Linked DNA regions of Homo sapiens. The protein of the gene in region 4 interacts with the protein of the main gene of each other region in a biochemical or structural test. Each region holds a gene or a part of one and is shown on either strand. Other genes may lie near its edges. The genes, in order: PIN1, PLK3, MARK3 and CDC25C.

What was found.
Region 1: the proteins of CDC25C (region 4) and PIN1 interact in a test that uses a peptide from one of them, tested with the Homo sapiens proteins (2 studies listed by BioGRID, with this or other methods).
Region 2: of the proteins of CDC25C (region 4) and PLK3, one has a biochemical effect on the other in vitro, tested with the Homo sapiens proteins (2 studies listed by BioGRID, with this or other methods).
Region 3: of the proteins of CDC25C (region 4) and MARK3, one has a biochemical effect on the other in vitro, tested with the Homo sapiens proteins (3 studies listed by BioGRID, with this or other methods).

Annotation. Positions count from the first base shown.
Region 1 is NC_000019.10:9,845,312-9,850,211, reverse strand, and holds the end of PIN1 (peptidyl-prolyl cis-trans isomerase NIMA-interacting 1), read right to left. Parts: intron 2,183-4,900; coding exon 2,072-2,182; intron 1,123-2,071; coding exon 1,013-1,122; 3' UTR 523-1,012; downstream 1-522. UniProt on the Homo sapiens protein: Peptidyl-prolyl cis/trans isomerase (PPIase) that binds to and isomerizes specific phosphorylated Ser/Thr-Pro (pSer/Thr-Pro) motifs.
Region 2 is NC_000001.11:44,795,895-44,803,400, reverse strand, and holds the start of PLK3 (serine/threonine-protein kinase PLK3), read right to left. Parts: upstream 3,025-7,506; 5' UTR 2,938-3,024; coding exon 2,728-2,937; intron 2,562-2,727; coding exon 2,454-2,561; intron 2,366-2,453; coding exon 2,249-2,365; intron 1,780-2,248; coding exon 1,650-1,779; intron 1,557-1,649; coding exon 1,469-1,556; intron 642-1,468; coding exon 546-641; intron 447-545; coding exon 248-446; intron 134-247; coding exon 10-133; intron 1-9. UniProt on the Homo sapiens protein: Serine/threonine-protein kinase involved in cell cycle regulation, response to stress and Golgi disassembly. Polo-like kinases act by binding and phosphorylating proteins that are already phosphorylated on a specific motif recognized by the POLO box domains.
Region 3 is NC_000014.9:103,381,025-103,388,415, reverse strand, and holds the start of MARK3 (MAP/microtubule affinity-regulating kinase 3), read right to left. Parts: upstream 3,002-7,391; 5' UTR 2,387-3,001; coding exon 2,336-2,386; intron 1-2,335. UniProt on the Homo sapiens protein: Serine/threonine-protein kinase. Involved in the specific phosphorylation of microtubule-associated proteins for MAP2 and MAP4. Phosphorylates the microtubule-associated protein MAPT/TAU. Phosphorylates CDC25C on 'Ser-216'.
Region 4 is NC_000005.10:138,321,792-138,328,819, forward strand, and holds part of CDC25C (M-phase inducer phosphatase 3), read right to left. Parts: intron 6,739-7,028; coding exon 6,693-6,738; intron 4,264-6,692; coding exon 4,230-4,263; intron 4,114-4,229; coding exon 4,024-4,113; intron 1-4,023. UniProt on the Homo sapiens protein: Functions as a dosage-dependent inducer in mitotic control. Tyrosine protein phosphatase required for progression of the cell cycle. When phosphorylated, highly effective in activating G2 cells into prophase.

The DNA.
Region 1 (4,900 bases), on a different chromosome or scaffold from region 4:
GGAGGGGGAACAGGGCATGCAGGAATAACCACTTCTCCATCAGACCCACAGCCCCCCGACTGAACAGGGGATGGGGGTCAGGCATGCCACATCCACAGCCCCCACACTGGCGGGGGACCCCATCTCCCCGCCACCCACCCCAGGATTCCCTCTGCTCCACCTTCAGGCACTAAAAGCCATGTCTGCTCCCATCCCCCTCCCTGCAGGAGCCCCCTCCAGTCCGGGAGGGCCCTGTTGTCATGGTAACTGCAGCTGCAATGGGTGCTGGGCCAGGTGCCGGGTTGGACCCACGAACCTTCTGGAAGCCCCTGAGATGGCAGGGAAGCAGATCTCAGGGTGCTGGGCAGCTGGACAGTGCCCATGTCCCCAAGAGCCAGCTGCTGTGACTCCCCCTGGCCCAGGGCAAGGGGAAGCCTCGGGGGAGAACTTGCAGCTGGGACCCTTAGGATGGGGGGGCTATGATCCCCTCCCCACGACATCTTCCCCACTATGCTTCCCTGAGGAGAAATGAGACACAGGAGAGCAGAGCAGTGGTTCTGGGTTTAATTGGGGGTGAAAGGGTGCTGCACAGTTGCTCAGAGGGCCCATGGCTGGGCCGCATGAGTGTTCACCTTTGCGACTGAACAGAGGAGCGTGGCCTAACTAGAAACAATTCGGCCCTCGAGTCTGCCTCCAGCACCTGGGGGGACACGGGGCGGCTCTGCTGACCAGGCCTTCTCTTTGGAACACCCCTCCCACCACACTGCCCTGGGTCTGGGAGCCTCCCACCCCTGCTGAAGTCAATTCCTTAAGGGAGAATCTGGCGGTCGCAGCCCCAACTGGGGATGGACAGGGAGTGGGGACCCCAGGGCCCCCAATCTGGAAGGGCCCCCTCCCAGCCATTGTGGGAACAATAAATACTGTGTGACGGTGGCAGGGAGTGGGGGGTTCGGCCACTGGCTGGCGGGCAAGGGGGAGCTGGCCGGCCTAGCCGCCCTGCCCTGCCCCGAGGCCAGGCCTGGGCTCCCCACCCTCACTCAGTGCGGAGGATGATGTGGATGCCGGAATCCGTGAACACGGGCCCGCTCATCTCCCCCGTCCGCAGCGCAAACGAGGCGTCTTCAAATGGCTTCTGCATCTGACCTGGGAGCCAGGAGGGGCGGTGGGGGTGTCAGGGCTGGGCTGGCAGAGGCCAGGATGAGGCAGGGCGGGTGGCAGCCGCGACAGATGGGGCTCCTGCCTGCGCTGAGCCTCACACTCGTCCACACTCATCCGTCACCATGTTTATTGCCAGTGCTGAGCGGCGGCCCAGCTGGGGGTGGCAGGGCCATTAAGGAGGCCCTGGGAAGCCCGAGGACAGCATGAAGGATAGCAGGCAGGGCTACGGCCGCCGCCGTGCATTTAGGGGCCACTTCGGTAGTGAACTCGTCTCCCTGGGCCTGGTTCCCAGCCCTGCCATGTCATCTGTCCCACCAGCCTCCTCGGAGGAGGTGGGCAGCTGCTGGCCCCATGCTGCCGCCCCACCCCACTAAGACACCTGCACACCACACCCTGCAACCCATCCTGGCCTCTCCCTGATGTTTTTCTGTAGACCCCGAGGACTGAAGAGGAGGAAGAGGAGGAGGCCTAGTCCCCTCTGTCCCTGATTTCCACTGTCCTGGCCAGACAGGCCTAAACTCAGGGCCACCTCCTCTCACCCCTGGTTTCCCCACCTTTGAGAGGGATTCTGGGGGACAGGCCCTGGGACTCTCAGGGCCCTCAACCTTAAACCACAAAAAGGAAGAGGCAGAGGACAGGATGTACCCACCTTGGTGGGCCTGGGATGAGGACATCTGTGCACAGACACACAAGAGACCATGCCCCCCAGGGTAGAGATGATGCCAGGAAGAAAGTGCTGCAGCCCCCCTCCCTGTGTGGCCCTGGCCCTGCCCAGCAGAGCAGCCTCTGAAGCCTGAGGAAGGGGCTGTGCTGCCACCTGCTGGACCCCGAAGGCCGGTGTGGCACCTGGGAGCCCAATGCCCAGACCCTCCTGGCCTCTACCCCTCAGGGTGGTAAGGGTCCCCCAACCTGGTGAGGCCCATTCCTTGCGCACCTCTGCTGAAGGCACCCAGGTCTCCCCTGGCCTTGGCTGAGCTGCAGTCGCTGAACTGTGAGGCCAGAGACTCAAAGTCCTCCTCTCCCGACTTGATCTTCTGGATGTAGCCTGTGGACATGGAACGGAATGGGAGTGCCAGGTCAGGGGTTGGGGGGGGCCTGACCAGACAGGATGGAGGACTCCAGAGCTGGCCAGCGGGGGAGGCAGCACTTCAGTTGGAAAGCCTCCCCTCACAGGCGCACATGCTCCCCACAACCCCTCTCCTCACACATACCTGCATGCGCAGTCACACCTGTCCTCACCCACACCCAAGAAGAGGTGCCTTTCACGAGCATGAGCACTTAATGCACCCCGCCAGTCATCCATGAGCCCTGCCACCCTGCAGGTCTCACATCCCTGCTCCCGCTGTCACTCTCACCAGCACACACACATGCACACACACACACACACGTGAGGGAAAATCTACATACAAGCTGGATGGGCCAGAGGAGAGCAGCAGGCAGGGAGAGGCTGACCCAGGCAGGGGGCTGGCCCCCCGGGCCCCCTGGGCAGAGGTGGGAGAGCTGTCCAGAGAAAGCCCAGCACTGCCACGGCAGCCTGTGGCCCCAGCTGTCCCATCTGGGAAGAACAGCCTGGCACTGGGATGGGCCTCCAAGGCACCCTGGTGGGCTCTGCAAGGGACACTCGTGGGCTGTAGCCCCAGGGTCCCAGAGGCAGGCAACATAGCTCTTCTCCCGGCTCCCCACCTACAGTCTGCATGCTGGCAGAACTCAGGGTGGCCCCACCCTGTGTGGCCCAAACTAGCCCATCGGCTCTGACTCTCCAGGAGGCGGAGGAGGCCAGGGCTGGTGGAGTTAGGAGGAACAGGGCTGCCAGCAGAGGGGGCAAGACGGCAGCAGAGTAGCATCTGAGTGACTCACGTTTCGGAAGCCAAGTGGGGAGGGCTGCGTGTGTGTGCACGTGGTGTGTGTGGTGTGACTGTGTGTGAGCAAGTGTGTGTATGCAGTCTTGTGCACGTGCCAGGTCAGGAGGAATGGCTACCGCCTTCCTGACTCCAGGCCACCCCCAGGAAGGTGCCCATGGGCCAAAGCCTGCCCTACCCCAATCCTCTTGCTCTGACACAAACGGGCGTCCCTTCCAGTGTCCTCCCTAGGCCAGTGGTGCGACAGCCCCAGCAAGCCAGGGCAGCCCTCTGGGTGAACTGCACCCGCCCCGTGTACCCTAAGGCCTGGCAGCCACTCTCCAGGGACACCAGTTCTTCTCTCCAACGTGAAGGTCACCCTGACACACTCAGTAGGGGGTTTCTTAATGTCACCCTGACACTTCTACCCTTGCTCCTTCTGACCTAAATGATGCCATGACACACCTGCCGGCCAACTTGCCCAGGACATACATAGCTGATACACTGGCCTGGAGCCTGTTGGAGACCCACGGGAACACTGCTGGGTGACCTAGCCAGTGCTGGGAGGCCTGGACACCCAACCGTGGCACCTGCTGAACACACTGGACTGATCCAAGTGTCCCCAGGGCCCCTCGGCCTCACGCTCTAACCTGCTTGGGACTGCAGTGGAAATGGTACCACCGTGAGAGCACAGCCATAGCTCCCTGTTTGGCTGCACGTCATGGCAGCCACCAGTGTCCTGGTATCTGAGCTGGATGTCACCACGACCTGCTGCCCTGACATCCCTGTGCCCCTCCGCCTGACAGTCTTGTGCCAGTGGCTGTGACATGCAGCATAGTGCCCGGCACCGAGCAGGACCCTGACCAACGTCCCTTGCTGTCATCATTCTTCCCCTCCATGGGGACTGCATCCCAGGGATGACGCAGCCTCTACTGCTCTGCTCTCCCTATCCTTGGCCCTGCCGGCCCACGTGTCCTGGTCTGACAGGGACATCGATGCCATACAGGGCCCCAGCTTCTGTTGGGATGGCACATTACAGAGGCTTCTGCCCGTGATGCCCTGGTTTGATCAGAATGCCCCGCTTCCAGGGCTGCCACGGGGTCCTCCTCTGTGCCAGACACATCCACCAGTGACTCCGACTTAAACCAGATGTTGCTAGGACCCCCTCCCACCCCTCCTCTCCCTGAACTTCTAGGTATCTCCTTGGCCTTAGGCACAGAGCACTGGAGTCCCCTGTCCCCCCTTCTGTCTGGACCACTAAGCCAGCCAGGGGATCGCACGGTGCCCCCAGAGGTACCCACCTACTTCGGGGAAGCAGGACTGCCTGCAGGCACTGAGCGTCTGAGGAGCCAGGCCCAGGCCCTGAACAAGCATCACCTTGCCACAGCCCCCAGCGGCCAGGGCTGGGGACACAGCCACAGGGATCCCTGAAATTGGACAGCCCGCCCAAGTTGTCCTCTCTCACACACATAGTGTGCAAGCCATACCACTTAAAAACAAATAAAAGCCACACTTTGGCACACCAATAGCTCATATCACCCAGATCTGCCTCTGACCTGCCAGCTCTCTTGGAAAATTTTCTGCTATGATGGGAGCCTGCAATGACTGTTTTTGTTTTCCTTTTGCAGAGATGGGGTCGCACTTTATTGTTCAGGCTGGCCTCAAACCCCTGGGCTGCAGCAATCCTCTTGCCTCAGCCTCGCAAGTAGCTGGAATGATTTTTTTTTTTAAAACGCTTTCTCTTGAACCTGGGAGGTAGAAAGGTACAGTGAGCTGAGATCGTTGCCACTGCACTCCAGCGTGGGCAACAAGAGCGAAACTCCATTTCAAACAAACAAACAAACAAACAAACAAACAAAAAAACGCTTTCTCTTGAAACTGGGAGGTAGAAGGTACAGTGAGCTGAGATCGTTGCCACTGCACTC
Region 2 (7,506 bases), on a different chromosome or scaffold from region 4:
CAGACTCACTCTTCTTCTTTCTGCCAAAGAGGCTCTTGGTAACTTTGGCAAACAGACTCCTAGCTGGGTTGGGGGGTGTCAGGTCTGGGACTGTCACGCAGCTGCTGATAGGGAGTCGATCGGGGGTGTAGCCCTAGGGAGGGGAACCATGTGAACAGAGAAGAGAGGCTCCAGGGGTCCTGTCACCTGCCCCCTTTCAATCCCTGGGAATACACAGATGGACTTAGAGGTCTGGGGAGCCACAGACCTTGGTAAAGAAGTCATGGCGCAGGATCTGGTCAATAGAGGGGCGGTCTCGGGGTGAGGCCCGAAGGATGGCGGCCAGGAGCTGCCGGGCAGGCAGTGAGAGGCTGGCAGGCAGCGTGTAGTGAACCTGCTTGATGCAGCGGTACGTCTCCTTCAGGTCAGCCGTCTCAAAGGGAGGGCTCCCGCAGAGCAGCGTGTACCTATAGGGCAGGGCCAAGGGGTCAGGAGTAAAGTGGAGGAGATGCTCCACCCACACACCCACCACCTGTCTGCTGCTGAACCTGGACCCTGCAACTCACATGACACAGCCCAGTGACCATACATCCGCCTCAGGGCCGTGGCCCTGTCTCAGCAGCACTTCTGGAGCCACATAGTTGGGGGTGCCACAGATGGTCCTGAAAGAGGGTGGGGAGGAGGAGAGAAGGCTGAGACCCAGCCCAGCAGCCCCCCGACTCCTTCCCCCACTGTTAGTCCAGACAAAGCAGCTGCCTGTCACCAAAGGCCAGAGAACTCCTGCTTGTCCTGGGACAATGGATGCCAGGGATGGCAGCTGAGTCCCCGCCCACCCGCCTGGCCCAGCTGCTCAGCTGCTCTTCATGACAGGGGGAGGGCCTGACCCCCAGCCCAGTCCTCTCCTCTAGGGTCAACACAGAGAGTCCACAGCTGATCCCTTCCCCCTTCCTGCACTCCTGTCTGTCAGACAGGCATCAGGCTGTCACCTCCCACGGTTTGTGCCACACACACACCAACACCAGCTGTCACAACCCCCATAAACACTCATCTGCCACATACGCTATCTGTGTCACACACACAAAGTATGATGGCCACAGCAGGGTCTTCTTACACCCACAATGTCATATCCCACCATTTCCACACTCTCAGTCTGTCTCTCACACACACATACACGCTGCCTGTCACCTTCCCCCATCCACACAAAGGGTAAGTCATGTGCCTCCAAGAATCTGTATACCCCCATCTGTCTCAGGGACTCAGAGTCACCTACCCTATCTGTGTCATACACCTATAGGATCCTCCCCCTCTCCACCGGTCTCGGTAACACAGGCTGCCACCTCCACCTTCACACATGCATGAACAGCCCATCATCCCTTCCCATTTATCTCATGCACACATCAGGCAGTCACCTTGCCTCCCACATACATATGCACTGTCTATCACGCATGTCATCTGTATCACACACAGGGCCCCTTTCCTCAAAACTCACTTCTTCCTCTGCTCCGGAGGCTCCAACCGGGCTGCCAGCCCAAAATCCCCCACCTTCAGTTCCATGTTCTCAGTGATGAAAAAATTTCCTAGATGGGGCAAGAGAGGTGTGTCAGATTCTTTCCTTCCTCCCTCCCTCCCTCCCTCCCCAACCTCCCATCCTCCAGGCTCAGGAGTCTCACCCAACTTGAGGTCCCGGTGCAAGATGCCGCGCTGGTGCAAGTACTTGAGGCCAGAAAGGATCTGCCGCAGGTAGTAGCGCACTTCTGGCTCCAACAGGGTGTGCCGGGCCTTCCAGATGTGGGCCAGGGACTGCAGAGAGCCACTGCCTCAGCCCCTGGTGAGCCCTCCCTCCCCCTCCCCCTCCATCTGTGCTCCCTGAGGAAGAAACAGGGCCCCAGCTTTGGGTCTTAAGACTGTCTTCTCGGCTGGGTGTAGTGGCTCACGCCTGTAATCCCAGCACTTTGGGAGGCCAAGGCAGGTGTATCACAAGGTCAGGAGTTTGAGACCAGCCTGACCAACAGGGTGAAACCCTGTCTCTACTAAAAATACAAAAATTAGCCGGGCGTGGTGGTGCATGCCTGTAATCCCAGCTACTCAGGAGGCTGAGGCAGGAGAATTGCTTGAACCCGGGAGGCAGAGATTGCAGTGAGCCGAGATCGCGCCACTGCACTCCAGCCTGGGCAACAGAGCAAGACTCCATCTCAAAAAAAAAAAAAAAAAAAAAAAAGACTGTCTTCTCTCCCTCACTCTCATCCCTGCGGGAATCACCATCTTTCACCTTTCGGCTGCAGAGCTCCAAGAAAATGTAGATGTTGTCAGCGTCCTCAAAGTGGTGCGAAAAACGCACGATGTGGCGGTGCTGCAGGTCTCGGTGCAGCTCAATCTCATTTAGGATCTGCGATGAGGGCGCGGAGTCGTCATCCTTCCATGGTTCCCATGCCACCGTCCCCACCCCACCCCTCGCCCGCTGAGCCTGGACCCACCTTCTCGCGCTGATGCGGCTTGGCGACGCGGCTCTGCGGGATGACTTTGACAGCGTAGGCGCTGCCAGTCTCTGTGTCAGTGGCCTCGTAGCAGCGGGCGAAGCCCCCCTGTGAAGAGGGGGCATCAGGCTGGTTGTTCCAGGGGGGCCGAGTCTGGCCCGCGGGCGTCCCCGCGTTGGGGGTCAAGTGCCCACGCCCTGCTCGGCGCCAGAAAAGAGGCCGGCCGGGACCCCCACCTCCACCATCACCACCCCGCGGACGTCCCTCGGCCCACCTTGCCCAACAAGCGGCCTTTGAGGTAGGTGCGGCCGCTGCGCGGGTCCGTGATGAGGCGCCCGGGGTCTGACGTCGGTAGCCCGGCCAGCATCTCCAGCTCAGGTCCGCGCAAGGCACTCGGAGGCGGCCCGGGCCCGGCCGGGGGAGCGGGCGCGGCGGCCGCACGCTGGAAGGGGCGCGGAGACAGGAAACCGGCGGCAGGCTCCATGCGGCCGGCGCGTCGCAGCGCGGTCCCGGCTTCTCGGTTCCGCCCGGCCCCGGCCGCGCGTGGCGCTGCCTGGATTTGCTACGCTGCGCTGGCGCCCAGGGGAGCCCAGCGTTTTATCAATGAACGCCTGCCCCCTCCCCGGCGTCTGGTCACCGAGAGTCCCGCCCCCTTCCTAGCAGCGAGTCGAGGAGAGGCCACTCCCATTCCCGGCCTTACATCACCCAGAAGCTCCTCCCCCACCCAACGCACTGCCAGACCCCGCCTCCTCGCCGCGCCCCGGGGCGCAGCCCGGCAGCTAGTCACCATGCAGGTGCAACCAGGCCGCAGGGGCCAGCTGATCCCTGTCCGCCTCTCACCCCTCCTTGGCCACTGCGAGTCCCGCTCGTGGGGGCCTCTTTCTTTCCCCATCCTTCGGGATGTGTGCTGAAGTCCGAGTGGGGCCCGGGCATCTGGGGGCGTCTCCCCAGCAACTAGATAGATCAGCGTTCCAGCCAGCAGCGGAGAGGCAGGGGCGGCGCTCGCTTTTGCCCGGGCATGTTACCCGACACTCCCCTTTCAGTGTGCCGGACCGCGTGTGTCCCTCGCCCTCGCCCGGGGCCCGGCCCAGTGCTGCCCTCTTTAGGGCCTGGAAGGAAGGCACAGTCTCGCGCCTGGCTTGCCTGGCCCGAGGGCTGCCTTGCCAGGTTTAGGAGTCAAGCAGAGTCTGGAATTTCAAGGCTTTTACCATGCTCCAGGCCACATCTTCCGCTACCCACTTCTACACTCTTGAGGGGCAAATTTCGGGTTCCTCCGGGGTCCGCAATTCCCTTCCTCTGAAAATACCCCCGGGCCTGGGTCAGCAGCCAGAGGCCAGAAAGTGAATGGGAATTGGATTTTCTTTTTTCTTTCTTTCTTTCTTTTTTTTTTTTTTGAGACAGAGTTTCGCTCTTGTTGCCTAGGCTGGAGTGCAATGGCGCGATCTTGGCTCATCGCAAACTCTGCCTCCCAGGTTCAAGCGATTCTCCTGCCTCAGCCTCCCGAGCAGCTGGGATTACAGGCATGCGCCATCACACCCGGCTAATTTTGTATTTTTTTTTTTTTAAGTAGAGACGGGGTTTCTCCATGTTGGTCAGACTGGTCTGGAACTCCCAACCTCAGGTGATCTACCCGCTTCGGCGTCCCAAAGTGCTGGGATTACAGGCGTGAGCCACCTTGCCTGGCTGGGAATTGCATTTTCTCAAATGCTAGACACGGGCACTTGGGCAGCTAGTCTCTGGACCACGTGGACCCCTAGACCCCTGCGCAATGCCCACCCTTCCCAGGGCCAGAGACAGAGGCCCAGGACCACAGGCCTCCTGGCCTTGTCTCTCACCTCTCTGCCCTCCCTCTGTGCCAGCCAATCAATTACCATGCCATTCCTCAAAGATTTATTGAGAGCATCTGCTAAGTGCTGGACACTATCTCGAATAAAACTAATCAAGCTTGCAGCCCTCATTTAGTTTACATTCTGCTTGATGGAAACAGACAATAGGCAAGCAGATAAACAAGGTAATTGCAGGCTGTGAAAAGTGCTATGAAGGAAGAATAAACAGAAGAGCAAATGAAGAGCCTACTTTAGAAAGAGTAGCCAGGAAAGTCAACAAATATTTGCTGAGTACCCAATTTGTGCCAATTTTACCTCCCAAATAGCTCTGATATCTATCCCCTTGGCTCCATCTTCCCCTCACACCCTGGCCTGGGCCACAGTCTCTCTTGTCAGGATGATTGCCACAGCTCCTTGCTGCTCTCCTGGCCTTTGGTCTCATGCCCATTTCATCCCCTCCATATGCTATTAGAGGGATCCCACCCAATCCCTCATCAGACTCACGAGGGCAAACTTCTCCAACCTTGTCCTTCATGACCACTGAAGGGAGACCCACGATAGCCTCAGATGTGGAGAAATACTAGTAGCCAAAATTACTGAGGGGGAGTTGGGGATAGGGATGGGCAGGAAGACCCTAAGTGCCTGCTCAAGAGTCTGGTCTTTATCCTTATAGGTCAGCAGTCTTCCAGAGGGGAGATGGTGGTGGGGCTAGAAAGGACAAATCCCCAGGGTAAATGGATCTGAGGCATTTAGAGAGTCAAAAAGGCATATTCAATTTTGCACCGTTATTTATTTTGTTTTGTTTTGTTTTGTTTGTTTTTTGAGACAGAGTCTTGCTCTGTTACCCAGGCTGGAGTGCAGTGATGCGATCCTGGCTCACTGCAACCTCTGCCTCCCCGGTTCAAGCGATTCTCCTGCCTTAGCCTCCAGAGTAGCCAGGATTACAGGCTCGTGCCACCACGCCCAGCTAATTTTTGTATTTTTTAGTAGAGACAGGGTTTCACCATATTGGCCAGGCTGGTCTCAAACTCCTGACCTTGTGATCCACCCACCTCGGCCCTCCCAAAGTGCTGGGATTACAGGCATAAGCCACTGTGCCTGGCCCAAAATTCGTGTATATATATATATATATATATATTTTTTTTTTTTTTCTTTTTTTTTGAGACAGAGTCTTAAAAAAAAAAGAATCACTTGATCCCAGGAGGGGGAGGTTGCAGTGAGCTGAGATCGTGGCACTGCATTCCAATCTGGCAACAGAAGGAGACTCCATCTAAAAAATAATAATAATAATAAAATAAATAAATTTTGGGGCCGTGCAGTGGTGGCTCATGACTGTAATCCCTGCACTTTGGGAGGCTGAGACAGGCAGATCGCTTGAGTCCAGGAGTTTGAGACCAGCCTGGGAAGCATAGTGAAACCCCCGTCTCTACCAAAAAAATGCAAAAATTGGGCCAGCCGCAGTGGCTCATGCCTGTAATCCCAGCACTTTGGGAGGCCGAGGCAGGCAGATCACCTGAGGCCAGGAGTTCGAAACCAGCCTGACCAATGTGGTGAAACCCCGTCTCTACTAATAATACAAATATTAGTCTGGCGTGGTGGCACCCACCTGTAATCCCAGCTACTCAGGAGGCTGAGGCAGGAGAATCGCTTGAACCTGGGAGGTGGAGGTTGTAGTGAGCCAATATCGCCCCATTGCACTCCAGCCTGGGTGACAGAGTGAGACTCTATCTCAAAAAAAAAAAAAAAAAAGTTAGCTAGGTGGGCATGGTGGCAGGCGCCTGTAATCCCAGCTACTCTGGAGGCTGAGGCAGGAGAATCGCTTGAACCCAGGAAGCAGAGGTTGCAATAAACCAAAATCACGCCACTGCACTCCAGCCTGAGTATGACAGAGTGAGACTCCATCTGAAAAAAAAAATACAAAATTTATCAGGGCGTGGTGGCTCACGCCTGTAGTCCCAGCTACTCAGGAGGCTGAGGCATGAGAATCACTTGAACCCAGGAGGTGGAGGTTGCACTGAGCTGAGATCACACCACTGCACTCCAGCCTGGGTGACAGAGAGAGATTCTGTCTCCAAAACAAAACAAAACAAAAATTAGCTGGGTGTGGTGGTGCATGCCTGTAATCCCAGCTACTTGGGAGGCTGAGGTGGGAGAATCACTTGAGCCCTGGAGGTCTAGGCTACAGTGAGTCATGATCATGCTGCTGCACTCCAGCCTGGGAGACACAGAGCTTGTCTCAAAAATATATATAGGGCCGGGCGTGGTGACTCATGCCTGTAATCCCAGCACTGGGAGGCCGAGGCCGGCAGATCACCTGAGGTCAGGAATTCGAGACCAACCTGGCCAACATGGTGAAACTCCATCTCTACTAAAATACAAAAATTAGCCGGGCATGATGGCAGGTGCCTGTAATCCCAGCTACTTGGGAGGCTGAGACAGAATTGCTTGGACCCGAGAGACAGTGGTTGCAGTGAGCCGAGCTCGTGCCACTGCACTCCAGCGTGGGTGGCTGAGCGAGACCCCATCTCAAAAAAATATACATATATTTATATGTATATATTTTTAATATATATTTATATATTTTTATATTATATTTATATATCTTTATATATTTATATATTATATTTATATATCTTTATATATTTATATATCTTTATATATTTATATATCTTTATATATTTATATATCTTTATATATTTATATATTTATATATCTTTATATCTTTATATATCTTTATATATGTTTATTTATATATATTTATATATGTTTATATATTTATATTTATATATTTATATATATTTATATATTTATATTTATATATTTATATATATTTATATATATTTATATATTTTTATATATTTATATATTTATATATATTTATACATTTATATATTTATATATATTTATATATATATTTATATATTTATATATATTTTTTATATTTATATTTATATATTTATATATATATTTATATTTATATATTGTTATATATTTTTATATATATTTATATTTATATATTGTTATATATTTTTATATATTTATATATTGTTATATATTTATATATTTATATATTGTTATATATTTTTATATATATTTATACATTTATATATTTATATATATTTATATATTTATATATATTTTTTATATTTATATTTATATATTTATATATATTTATATTTATATATTGTTATATATTTTTATATATATTTATATTTATATATTGTTAT
Region 3 (7,391 bases), on a different chromosome or scaffold from region 4:
ATATGGACTATACCTGAGTTATAACACTGACACAAGGGCTCCACACTGTGAAAGCTACACAGCTCCTTCCAGAACATGCCAATGCAAGAGTTAAAAATGTAACAGGGCATGGTAAATTAATGCAACGATGTGTGATAAACTTGATTTTTAAAAAAAGTCAAAAATTCATTTTAAATACACTACATGGCTGGGCGTGGTGGCTCACGCCTGTAATCCCAGCACTTTGGGAGGCTGACGCGGGAGGATCACCTGAAGTCGGGAGTTTGAGACCAGCACGACCAACATGGAGAAACCCCGTCTCTACTAAAAATACAAAATTAGCCGGGAGTGGTGGCACATGCCTGTAATCCTGGCTACTCAGGAGGCTGAGGCAGGAGAATCACTTGAACCCGGGAGGCGGAGGTTGCAGTGAGCCGAGATCATGCCACGGCACTCCAGCCTGGGAGACAGAGCCAGACTCCATCTCAAAAAAGAAAGAAAGAAAAAAGACCCATTTGAAATCCTTCATTATCACAAATCTGCTATGACTGTTTTTGGCTTCAGTTTAGAAAGCATGGAGCTCCTACTCTGGTTCAATGTAAGGTTTTGCTTCTCTGAGTGAAGATCAATGATCAAAACTAATCAGTTGGGCACACTGGCTCATGCCTGTAATCTCAGCACTTTGGGGAGCCGAGGCGGGTGGATCACATGAGGCCAGGAGTTCTAGACCAGCCTGGCCAACATGGTGAAACCCTGTCTCTACTAAAAATACAAAAATTAGCCGGGCGTGGTGGTGCACGCCAGTAATCCCAGCTACTCGGGAGGCTGAGGCATGATAATCACTTCAGCCTGGGAGGTGGAGGCTGCAGTGAGCCAAGATCGCACCACTGCACTCCAGCCTGGGAGACAGTCTCGGTCTGTCTCAAAAAATAAATAAGTAAATAAATAAATAAATAAACAAATAAATAAGGTTTCTTTAAAAGGACTATAAGGAAATTAGTTCCCTGACTCACCTAGTCTAAGAGTTTCTATTACTCACTCTTTATATAATTTTCTAATCTATCTCAGGTGGAGAAAGGTACATCACTGTTCTACTTACTCAGGGCCACAGAGCATTAAATATTGTATACTAATATGCTACAGGGATGCTTTAGGCTATGGTTTACGTTTACGGATTAAATTATCAAACAGCTATCCAGCAAACAAGCGGCATTTTTGAAGATCAAAATGAAAGCATTAACTCCACTAGGCCACAACATCTCAGGACATTACTGAAAGCATGAAAACACTCAAAGCAAGGAAGCATTCCCTAAGAGAAGACATTTCGTGCCAGCAATTACCTCATAACACTTTTAATGAAAGGCCAGTGAAGTTTCTTTACAAATTATTTACTAGATGTTTTACAGAATATAGTCAACAACTAGATTGAAACACTTTTGAACCCAGTGTTAGAGGAGAACAGAGTTAGAAAACGAACAGAGTCAAACGTTTCTTCAATGGAATTTCTACTACAAGTTCTCATTCTCTAGCAATGCTGTTCCTGGCATTTTGTAGTTTCACATGAACAAAATCAAAGGTTCCTTTTATAAAACCATAGCCTGTGAGCGCTGAAAGGGACCTAAGAGCTCATCTAAGCCAATCTCTTTTTAGGAAGGAGGACAGCGAAGCCCCCAGCGGGTGTCCCTCAGCTAGGCAGTGAGTGGCAGAGCAGAGCTTCACTATACATCTGCTTTTCAAAATGTTTAACCAACTCCTTCAAAAAAGATTTGTATGGAAAGGAAACTGCCTTAATAAAGGCTGCGCGCTAGTGTTTTGGAATTCCTAAGGGGACCGCAAAGATCCCTCAGTGGACACTTAGTGACTGTGATTAAATTTAGTTCCAGACCATCTTAAAGAACGAGACCGCCCACTTGACCCAATCGATTACTCTTAATCAGCACCGGTAACATATGTTATTAATGTGACAGTCTCTCAAGAACTGCCTGACCAAGTTAAAAGCAGAGTTCGGCTAAAATAAGCACTGACCACTGCAGTGATCTGACACACACGTTTGCACAATCCATTGCGCGGCAACCTGGCCTCTCAAAGCACCGATCCGTAACGCTGCAACTCCTGGGCTTTATTAACCGACTAGACTGCCGGCATAATCGATGTACTTCGCAGACCCGCCCGCGAACAGCGGGACACGGCAGACTTCTGGAGGAAACGGTCCGACCTGGCTGCCTCCTGGGTGACTACGGCCTGCCCTCTATTTCCAGAGCGTTCGGCTGGGGGGAACACCCGACTGCAAGGCACTGCCCGAGGAGCACGAATGCCACCCCGAAGGTCCGCCAACTACAACGCCCAGGTTACTTACGTTTTCAGTGTCTCGTTCATTCACCGTTGGCAATGGGGTCCTAGTGGACATTTTACTGCACTTTAATTCTGCACAATGCGAGGGTCAAAACAAAACAGCACAGCCCTAGGAGGCCGGCGACCAGCGTCCTCGAGTCCACGGCAGTTCCGAAAAGGCGCCGTGGGGAGGGCGGCTCCCTTCCCCCTACGGCCGTCTAGATCCCGGGCCTGGCCCGGGCCGTCCCCCGGCGGGTCCCGGGGCTCATTCTCTCCCTGCCTCGGCGGCCGAGGCGAGGAGACCGGGAGGGCGGCAGTGGCGGAGCCGAGCCTGCGGGCGGCGGGCTGCGCTTCGGCCCGCCGGCGTCCCCTTGCCTCAGGGCGCCCCGCGATCCTGGGCCCCCTCACCTCCTTCTCCACTCCCTCCCGTCGCACCGCGAATTTCAGCTCGCGGGCCTCCACACAGCGCCGCCGGCGGCGCCTGAAAACGAGGAGGCGGAGGAGGATGTGAAGGAAGTGGAGCGCAAGACAGGCCGCCGCGGGCTGTGGGCGCCGACCATGGAGCGGGCTGCGGAGGAGGCGCCTGCGCCCGACTGCTTCTCCCTCTCTAGCGAGCTTGCTGCCTCAGCCTCCGCCCTGCTGGCCGCCGCTGCCGCCGCCGCACCCCGGCACCTCAGAGCCTCACGGAGCCAAGATGGCCGCCCCTCGGCTTCCTCTGCTGCCTCCGGCTGCCGGAAGTGACGACAGGCCGCCACCCGGAGTCCCGCCAATCAGCATGGCCTGAGAAAGCCGGCCCGGCTGTTGTTGCTAGGGGCGACTTGGTCCAGACCTCGCCGCGGGGGCGGTGCAGAGGGCTGGATAGTGCTGGTCGGGTCTCCGCTGACTCCCGCGGGCTGCGGGTTCCTCCTGTCCCGAGCGCGCCGGCAACCGCGAAAGAGCCGAGAAACGGCTCTGGGCGACAGCCAGAGCCCTCCCGCTGAGTTGGCATTTACACACTACAGGCCTGGGTTGGCTGGATTACAGATCGAGAGCCTATTGTGCGCAAAAGTTGCGGTTGCATCCCTGGGACTGCGCTGCACCGAATGGAGCCCCAGCATTAATTAATGACAGGGCCGGGGCTACGGGAAGGCGCCGGGCTCTTGCATCCTTAACTGTGACCCGGGAGTCAGGTTCTCGCCAACAAACCTTCCCGTCTCCGGATCTGAGCAGCTGCGGGCTGGGCGCGGACCCTGAGGGCAGCAGGCGCCTCTTGCCCTCAAGGAGCTGGTGGTCAGACGGGTGACAGACCCGGACCCAGCTAAATGCCATCCGGATGGAAGAGTGCAATAACGAGGGTGGCACAAAGGGGATGGGTTTGGGGGCGAAATGAATCTGTAGAGGACCCCAGGGACCAGCTTCCAAATGCCTGTAGGGGGTTTATAAGCAGGCTTTTCTTACAGTCAGTGCGTTGCTGCTGGAAGACTGGAAGCATCTCTGGGTGCCAGCCTCGGGCCAGGCTCGGTAGATGCCTGCAGGCTGGAACACTGGAAATGCTACCTGACCTGGAAGCCTTCCTTGCCCATTCACCTCTTCACGTGCTCGGTGCCTCTACTCAGCTCCTGGCCAGCGGTGGATGGAATCCATGGGTGCAGGGTCCGAAGAGGGAGAGTAGTGTGAGATGGGGGTGACACGAACTGTTACCGAGAGTCGAGTCTACCTTGTGGGTTCATGACATTTGTTACCTCATTTAGCCTCAGGGTAACCCTATGAGATGGGCAGACACACATGCGATCCGAAGTCTAGACAGGTACAGTGACTTGGCTAAAGTACACAGGTTGGTTAGCGACAGAGCTGGGATTCTAACCTAGCTCCCAAAGCTTGGATAATAGGTAAGCCCTTGTAGTGGGGGGCTATGTCATGCTTGCTTTCCCTTTGGTCCGTTGGCATCCCAACTCTCTTGCTATGTTTGAGACATTTCTTGCTCCACGAAATATATGTTTGTTGTTGTTGTTGTTGTTGTTGTTGTTTTGGGACGGAGTTTCGCTCTGTCGCCCAGGCTGGAGTGCAGTGGCGCGATCTCCACTCACTGCAAGCTCCACCTCCCGGGTTCACGCCATTCTCCTGCCTCAGCCTCCCGAGTAGCTGGGACTGCAGGTGCCCACCACCATGCCTGGCTAATTTTTTTTGTATTTTTAGTAGAGATGCGGTTTCACCGTCTTAGCCAGGATGGTCTCGATCTCCTGACCTTGTGATCTGCCCGTCTCGGCCTCCCAAAGTGCTGGGATTACAGGCGTGAGCCACTGCGCTCGGCCAAATATATGTATCTTTAAACGCCAGATTCACTCCCAGAGAGGCCAGAGGCTCCCAATGTTAAAACACCTGAGGACTAAGGTAACACTCAGGGCTCCCATCTAACCCTCAGAGAGGAGTGGTCAGGGGGCCAAGAGTGGTTCTATTTAAAATGTGAATAGGGGCCGGGCGCGGTGGTTCACGCCTGTAATCCTAACACTTTGGGAGGCCGAGGTGGGCGGATTGCCTGAGCTCAGGAGTTTCAGACCAGCCTGGCCAACATGGTGAAACCCCATCTCTGCTAAAATACAAAAAATTAACCAAGCACGGTGGTGTGTGCCTGTAGTCCCAGCTACTAAGGAGGCTGAGGTGAGAGAATCTCTTGAACCTGGGAGGCAGAGTTGAAGTGAGCGAAGATCAGCCCACTGCACTCCAGCCTGAGCAACAGAGCAAGACTGCGTCTCAAAAAACAAAATAAAGTAAAATAAAATGTGAATAGGGAGACGGCATGCACATCTGTAATCCCAGCTACTTGGGGGCCTGAGGTGGGAGGGTCACTTGAGCCCAGGAGTTGGAGACCAGCCTGGGCAACAGAGTGAGACCTTGTCTCTACAAAAACTTAAAAAAAAAAAAAAGGCAGAAGGATGATGCCCACTGCACTCCTGCCTGGGAGACAGAGCAAGAACATGCCTCAGAAATAAATAAATAAGTAAATAAATAAATAAAGTTATTCTCTTTCTCCTTCTGGCCAAGAGGAGTTAGTGGAATTCCATTAGTTAAATGTGTGCTTCACACACTTCAACTGCAATGTTGGTTATGATAAGACGGGGTGAGCATAAGTGTTGTGGGAGACCCAAGCAGGGACATTTAGCTCAACTCGGGGGTTTGGATCAGGGAAGGCTTCCTGGGGGAGAGGATGTTTATGCTGAGTCTAAAAGCATGAGCAGAGTTAGCTGTGGGAGGATGGGTAGAAAGGACAGTTCAAGCAGAAGGATGGCCTGATGAGCACCGCAATGAGAAGCCACACGGTGGGTCTGGGTAAATATCAGGAGAGTGAGCGGTGAGAAGTGAGACTGCAGAAGGCCGGAGCCAGGCAGGGTTTGGACAGAGCATGGCACCTGGTTCTGCATCCCATCCTGATGACAGTTGGGAAAACACCCCAGAAAGGGTTTCAGCCTCAGGCAGAAGCTGCGAGAAAGTGTATGGGAAGTTCAGAACAGTCCCCATTGGCCAGAGAAGTAGCTGGGGGAGGAGGTTGCCACCCAGATGCTTTTCTCACCCAAGCCACATATGAAATAATGAGTCAGCGAATGCCAAAAGTTAGGAAATGAAGATAATAGTACTTAACTCAAGATGCTTCTGGGTTTTGTAAAAGCTAGAATTAAACGCCTTGAACTTTTCCTTGCACTTATGTTAAATGACATCATGACACTATAAAGAGTGGGAGATGGGTGTGTGTGTTTCTTTTTTCTTCTTTCTTTCTCTCTTTCTTTCTTTCTCTTTGTCTCTTTCTTGCCCTGCCTGCCTGCCTTTTTCTCTCTTTCCTCCCTCCCTCCCTCCCTTCCTCTCTCTTTTTCCCCTTCCTTCCTCCCTCCCTCCCTCCCTCCCTTCCATCCATCCTTCCTTCCTTCCTTCCTTCCTTCCTTCCTTCCTTCTTCCTTCCTTCCTTTGTTGTTGCTTGAGCCAGACAGGGTCTTGCTCTCTTGTCCAGGCTGGGGCACTGTGGTGTGATCATAGCTCACTGCAGCCTTGAACTCCGGGGCTCAAGTGATTCTTTGCCTCAGCCTCCTGAATAGCTAGGACTACAGGTATGCACCACCATACCTAGGTAATTTATTTTTAGAGACCAAGTCTTGCCCAGACTGAACTTCCGGCCTCAAGCAACCCTCCCATCTCTGCCTCCCAAGGTGCTGGGATTACAGGTGTGATCCACTGCGCCTAGCCACCTGGGTGTGTGAATTACAAGCAAAAAAGAAAAGGAGAGGAAGAGAAGAAACAGTAAAGTATTGTTCTGTCCAAAGGACTCTCTGTGGCCCAGAATTATGTGCATCTATGGTCTGGAAGGAATAGAGAGGAGGGTTTGGAAGTTGTCCTTGGAATGCCTTCTTCAATCCCTTTTCATATTTCTTGTTTCCTGTCTTCATATTAAAATAGTTTCTACCTTGGGGCCCCAAGCTGAAAAGATATAACTAAATTTACTAAGATGTATATGTGCATAAGCAATACTTACTTTCATGGCAAGAAGGAAGGCACCATGAGACATCAGAAGCTAGAGATAATCTAGCCCTACTATGTCCCTGTGGGACAGACGAGAAACTGAGTCTCAAAGCCATTAGGATAGCTGCTACCAAAAAAGCAGAAAATAACAAATTTTGGCAAGAACGTGGAGAAATTGGAAACTGTGCACTGTTGGTGGGGATGTAAAATGGTGCAGCTTCTATGGAAAGCAGTATTATGCTTCTTGAAAAAAATTAGAAATAGAATTACCATAGGATCTAATAATCCCACATCCAGATAGATACCCAAAAGAATTGAAAACACAGTCTCAAGGAAATATCTGCACAGTCATGTTCATGGCAGCATTATTCACAATAGCTAAAATGTGAAAGCAAACCAAGTGTCCATCCATAGATGAATGGCTAAACAAAATGTGGTATGTCCATACAATGGAATATTATTCAACCTTAAAAAGAGGGGAAATTCTGACATTAGCTACAACACAGATGAAACTTGAGGACATTATGATGAGTGAAATAAGTCAAACACAAAAGGACAAATTCTGTATGATCCCTCTTCTATGAGTTACCTGGAGC
Region 4 (7,028 bases):
ACTTTATCTTCATAGGATAGAATATGTTAAAATAGCTTTCCCTCAGGGTTGAGATTAGAAATAATAATCCAAATCTCTGGAGTCCATGGTCTATGAAAGGCAAGTCAATGCCTGGGTAAGTTAAGACCCCAGTATTATAAGGGCACAAAAGACACTAGAGAAATTACGCATGGATAATAATCACATGAAATCACTACTAATTATTATTATTATTTTATTTTATTTTTTGATACAGAGACATGCTTTGTCGCCCAGGCTGGAGTGCAGTGGCGCGATCTTGGCTCACTGCAAGCTCCGCCTCCCGGGTTCACGCCATTCTCCTACTTCAGCCTCCGGAGTAGCTGGGACTACAGGCGCCCGCCACCACGACTGGCTAATTTTTTGTACTTTTAGTAGAGACAGGGTTTCACCATGTTAGCCAGGATGGTCTCGATCTCCTGACCTTGTGATCCGCCTGCCTCGGCCTCCCAAAGTGATGGGATTACAGGCGTGAGCCACAGCACCCGGCCTATAATTATTATTATTTGAGACAGAGTCTCGCTCTGTCGCCCAGGCTGGAGTGCAGTGGTGCAGTCTCGGCTTACTGAAACCTCTGCCTCCTGGGTTCAACTGATTCTCCTGCCTCAGCGTCTTGGGTAGCTGGGATTACAGATGCCTGCCACCACGCCCGGCTAATTTTTTTTTTTTTTTTTTTTTTTTTTTGAGATGGAGTCTCGCTCTGTCGCCCAGACTGGAGTACAGTGGCACGATCTCGGCTCACTGCAAGCTCCGCCTCCCGGGTTCACGCCATTCTCCTGCCTCAGCCTCCAGAGTAGCTGGGACTACAGGCACCCGCCACCATGCCCGGCTAATTTTTTCTATTTTTAGTAGAGACGGGGTTTCACCATGTTAGCCAGAATGGTCTCGATCTCCTGACCTCGTGATCCGCCCACCTCGGCCTCCCAAAGTGCTGGAATTACAGGCGTGAGCCACCGCGCCCGGCCCTGGCTAATTTTCATATTTTTTTTTCAGTAGAGATGGGGTTTCACCATGTTGCCCAGGCTAGTCTGGAACTCCTGACCTCAAGTGATCAGCCTGCCTCAGCCTCCCAAAGTGCTGGGATTACAGGTGTGAGCCACTGCACCCAGCCACTACTAATTATTTTTATTTTTATTTTTTTTTCCTTTTTTTTTTGAGACAGTCTCACTTTGTCACCTGTCCATTCACTGCACTGGAGTGCAGTGGTGTAATCTCAGCTCATTGCAACCTCTGCCTCCCAGGTTCAAGCCATTCTTGTTTCTCAGCCAGGTGCCACCACGCCTGGCTAATTTTTGTATTTTTAGTAGAGACAGGGTTTTGCCATGTTGGCCAAGCTGGTCTCAAATCCTGGCCTCAGGTGATCCACCTGCCTCAGCCTCCCAAAGCGGTGGGATTACAGGCATGAGCCACCATGCCTGGCCTGCTAATTATTTTTAACATAAAATAAACTATTTTACCATGTATGTATGTGTGTGTGTATTATTTATTTGAGACTGAGTCTCCATCTCAGCTGACTGCAGCCCCAGACTCCTGTGCTCAAGCAATCCTCCCAATTATAACTCACTGGAGCCTCAGGCTCTTGGGCCGAGGCGATCCTCTTGCCTTGGCCTCCAGAGTACCTGAGACTACAGGCATGCACCACCAAGTCCCAGCCATTTCTTTTTTTTGGTTGGGGGGTGGGGTAGAGATGTGGTCTTGCTGTGTTCCCCAGCTAGGGAACTCAAAGTCCTGGACTCAAGCAATCCTCTCACCTCAGCCTCCCAGAGTGCTGGGATTACAGGGATGAGCCACAACATCTGGCCTAATTAGCATTTTCCCTCAAACTAGACTGCTCAGCAGAAAGTAATTTTTTAAAAAATTCCATGAGAAGTCCAGGTATGGTGGCTCATGCCTGTAATCCCAGCACTTTGGGAGGCCGAGGTGGGTGGATCACAAGGTCAGGAGTTCAAATCAGCCTGGCCAATATGGTGAAACCCCGTCTCTACTAAAAATACAAAAATTAGCTGGGCGTGGTGCCACACGCCTGTAGTCCCAGCTGCTCAGGAGGCTGAGGCAAGAGAATCTCTTGAACCCGGGAGGCAGAGGTTGCAGTGAGCTGAGATTGTCCCACTGCACTCCAGCCTGGACAACAGAGCAAGATTCCATCTCAAAAAAAAAAAAAAAACAAATTCCATGAGAAGACTGGGCAGGGTGGCTCACACCTGTAATCCTAGCATTTTGGGAGGCTGAGGCAAGTGGATTGCCTGAGCTCAGAAGTTCAAGACCAGCCTGGGCAAGATGGTGAAACCCCATCTCTACTAAAATACAAAAAATTAGCTGGGCGTGGCAGCATGCGCCTGTAGTTCCAGCTACTCAGGAGGCTGAGACAGGAGAATTGCTTGAACCAGGGAGGCAGCGGTTGCAGTGAGCTGAGACTGCGCCACTGCACTCCAGCCTGGGTGACAGAGTGAGACTCTGTCTCAAAATAAATAAATAAATAAATAAGTAAATTCTATGAGATTTGGATTGCTAATGAAAATGTAAATTCTTGTAACTTTTTTAGAAATGAATCGGAGAAAGTATCAAAACCTTAAGGCTTGAGCCCAGGAGTTCAAGATTTGCCTAGGCAACATAGTGAGACCCTTATTTCTAGGGAGAGGAAAAAAAAAAACTTTAAAAATATTGATGCTGTCGGGCATGGTGGCTCACGGCTGTAATCCCAGCACTTTGGGGGGCAGAGGAGGGCAGACTACGAGGTCAGGAGATCAAGACCATCCTGGTCAACATGGTGAAACCCTGTCTCTACTAAAAATACAAAAATTAGCTGGGTGTGGTGGCACGCACCTGTAATCCCAGCTACGTGGGAGGCTGAGGCAGGAAAATCGCTTGAACCCAGGAGGTAGAGGTTGCAGTGAGCCGAGATTGCACCACTGCACTCCACCCTGGGGAACAAGAGCAAAACTCTGTCTCACCAAAAAAAAAGAAAAAAAAGTGATTATAGGCCAGGCAGTGGCTCACACCTGTAATCTCAGCCCTTTGAGAGGCCGAGGCAGGTGGATCACTTGAGGTCAGGAGTTTGAGACCAGCTTGGCCAATAAGACAAAACCCCGTCTCTACTAAAAACACAAAAATTAGCTGGGCCGTGGTGGCACGTGCCTACAGTCTCAGCTATTTGGCAGGCTGAGGAACAAGAATCACTTGAACCCGGGAGGCAGAGGTTGTAGTGAGCTGAGATTGCACCACTGCACTCCAGCCTGGGCGATGGAGCGAGACTCAGTTTCAAAAATAAATGAATAAAAAGTGATTATAAATGGAGATTAGAAGGACAGTATTAAATCAAGAAAAAACTGATAAGAACAGCCGAAAACATGAGTTTATCTTAAGTCAATGTAAGAAAAGAAGAGCAGCTATCTTTTATGGTAATGATTTGGGGAAAGGGATGGGAGGCAGGGAAGAAAAAACGATGTCTAGAAAAGGGGCTTAGATGAGGGATTAGATACAGAACTATCTTAGTGATGAGGTGGCTCCGGAGAGGCTAGATTTAACTTGGAACGACGGATGGCCTAAGGTTTAGATAAAAAGTACCATGGCCTCCTCGGAATAAGGGCTTAAAAGCTAGACTAAGGGGGAAATAAGAAATTAATCTACACTTGCATGTAAAGTGGTAAAAAAAAATCCATGAACAAGTTATGCAAGTTATCCCTACCTGTTAAAACAAACAAACAAACAAACAAAAAACTCCTAAATCCCTTACACTACAGTAAGGGTAATTTTTGTCCTCAAAATGATCAACTGAACATGAGAAATAATGATGACCTACTGTGGAAGATTTGGAGCTGGGTGTCTGTCCTAGGGCCAAACTTTAATAAGAAAAAACAAAAACAAAGAAATTTTCTCCCCTATAGTAATACAGTTTCCTTGTCTAGCATACGAGGTATAAACAGTTCTATGTCTCATTATGATACCAAGTTTCTTCACTCAAAAAATAAAACTGCCAATATATCTAGGTTTCCATTAAACACTCACATTTTCTTTATTTGCAGATGAACTACACATTGCATCTCTCTTTCTATGGCCACGGTCCAAACCATTCGGAGTGCTACAAAGAAGCTGTGCCTAAAAAAGAGAGTTTGCTGAGAACGTCCAGCATCCTCAAGCCACAGGTGCAATGGAAACCCTCTGCCTCCCACCTGAAAAGCAAAACAAAACCCAAAAAAAGAGAGGCTACTCACTGGGCTACATTTCATTAGGTGCTGGTCATGATTCCTGCAGATTAAAACAAACTGCCTGTCAGGTTAGTCCCAAATACTGTTTGATTATTCTTCAGTGGATTGGTGCATCCCAACATTTTTCTATTTCATTCTAGGAGCCCTATTCCTAGTTGATATGTCTCTTCCAACAACAATACATAGGGTATTCTCTGTGGTAAATATCAAGACTCAAGTGACATCCTGGGGATAAGACCCTCATTTTGCCTGCATAACCATATAACATGTTCCAAAGATGAACGAGTTTTATACAATTTACAATTTACTAATTTTCCAGCACAGTGTATTGGGGCTAATTTTTTTTTTTTGAGACGGAATCTGGCTCTGTCACTCAGGCTGGAGTGGCACGACCTCGGCTCACAGCAAGCTCTGCCTCCCGGTTTCACGCCATTCTCCTGCCTCAGCCTCCTGAGTAGCTGGGACTACAGGCGCCTGCAACCACATTCAGCTAATTTTTTGTATTTTTAGTAGAGATGGGGTTTCACCGTGTTAGCCAGGACGGTCTTGATCTCCTGACCTCGTGATCCGCCCGCCTCAGCCTCCCAAACTTCTGGGATTACAGATGTGAGCCACCGCACCCGGCCGGGGCTAACTTTTTAAAAAAATTTAATTTCTGGCGGGGCGCTGTGGCCCACGCCTGTAATCCCAGCACTTTGGGAGTTCGAGGCAGGCGGATCACCTGAGGTTGGGAGTTCGCAACCAGCCTGACCAACACAGAGAAACCCGTCTCTACTAAAAATACAAAATTAGCCAGGCATGGTGGCGCATGCCTGTAATCCCAGCTACTTGGGAGCCTGAGGCAGGAGAATCGCTTGAACCCGGGAGGGAGAGGTTGTGGTGAGCCGAGATCGCGCCATTGCACTTAAGCCTAGGCAACAAGAGCAAAACTCCGTCTCAAAAAAAAAAAAAAAAAAAAAAGGCTGGGCGCGGGGGCTCACGCTTGTAATTCCAGCACTTTGGGAGGCCAAGGCGGGCGGATCACGAGGTCAAGAGATAGAGACCGTCCTGGCCAACATGGTGAAACCCTGTCTCTACTAAAAATACAAAAATTAGCTGGGCGTCGTGGCATGTGCCTGTAGTCCCAGCCTCTCAGGAGTCCGAGGCAGGAGAATCACTTGAACCCGGGAGGCGGAGGTTGTAGTGAGCCAAAATCGCACCACTGCACTCCATCCTGGCAACAGAGCGAGACTCCATCTCAAAAAAAAAAAAAAATTAATTTCTATCCTCCCTCCATGGATTTCATTATCTATCTGGGTTAGAGCATTTAAAGCAATTCAAGCTGGGCCCAGTGACTCACATCTGTAATCCCAGGACTTTGGGAGGCCAAGGGGTGGGTGGGGGTGGGGCGCTGATCACTTGAGGTCAGGAGTTCAAGACCAGCCTGGCCAACATGGTGAAGCCTCCATTTTTGTATTACTAAAATACAAAAATTAGCCGGGCGTGGTGGTGGACGCCTGTAATCCCAGCTACTCGGGAGGCTGAGGCAGGAGAATCGCTTGAACCCAGGGAGGCAGAGGTTGCAGTAAGTCAAGATGGCACCACTGCACTCCATCCTTGGCAACAGAGCCAGACTCCATCTCAAAAATAAAAATAAATACATAAGTAAAATGCTTGGTATGTGCTAGATACACAGTTTATTTACTCCTTACAATAGCTACTTTATGAGAAATGCTATTATTGTCTCCACGTTACAAATAAAAAAAATTAAGGTCCAATGAAGTTAAAAAAAACTTGTCAGAGTCACAACTGGTGAATGAAGTAGTAAGCCAGGAATCCACACACTGATTCCAGAGCTTATACTCTGTACTTTCTTTTTTTTTTTTTTTCTGAGACGGAGTCTCGCTCTGTCGCCCAGGCTGGAGGGCAGTGGCGCAGTCTTGGCTCACTGCAACCTCCGCCTCCTGGGCTCAAGTAATTCTCCTACCTCAACCTCCGAAGTAGCTGCGATTACAGGCATGTGCCACCACATCCAGCTAATTTTTGTATTTTTAGTAGAGACGGGGTTTCACCATGTTGGGCAGGCTGGTCTTGAACTGCTGACCTCAACTGATCCGCCTGCCTTGGCCTCCCAAAGTGCTGGGATTACAGATGTAAGCCACCGTGTCCGGCCACTCTGTACTTTCAATTACTAAGATACAGCACCTTTCACATACAAATAAAAGCCTATACATAAGTGTAGTATACCATTTTCCTTCATTTCCTTATAGATACTTCTGATTATGATGGTTAAAATGAATAGCCTTCATTTTCACAACACTATTTAGATGTGGAAAACTTAGAAACTGTTCAAGGTAAGGAACTAGGCCTCAAAGCCCACTTATACCCAGTATGAAAGGTTTTGTACTCTGCAGAGTCTGCACAGGATAAAATCTCTATGACCAGTGCTAAAAGGCTTTTGTGTGGGGTTCATTTAACAACAGAACTTACATCCCAGCTAAATGCACTTCCTGAAGTCCTGAAGAATCCAGGTGACCTGCAATCAAATATAAAGAATCAGTAAAAGGAGTTATTCTTGTCCATGCATCCTGTTTTTCCTTCAGATTTTCTTCATTACCAGTAAGCCGTATTAATTTCAAGGACTGAGCTTTTGAATACAAAGCCTCTCGATTGGTACCCATTTCATGGTACAAGGTACAATTTCACAGAAACGTAAGAATTTATATGTGTCACTAAAAGAAATCAAGTGTTGGGAAACACTACACTATGCTACCTATGGAGTTTTTTTTTTTCTTATGGGTAGAAAAGAAAGGTTATCACTCAGAA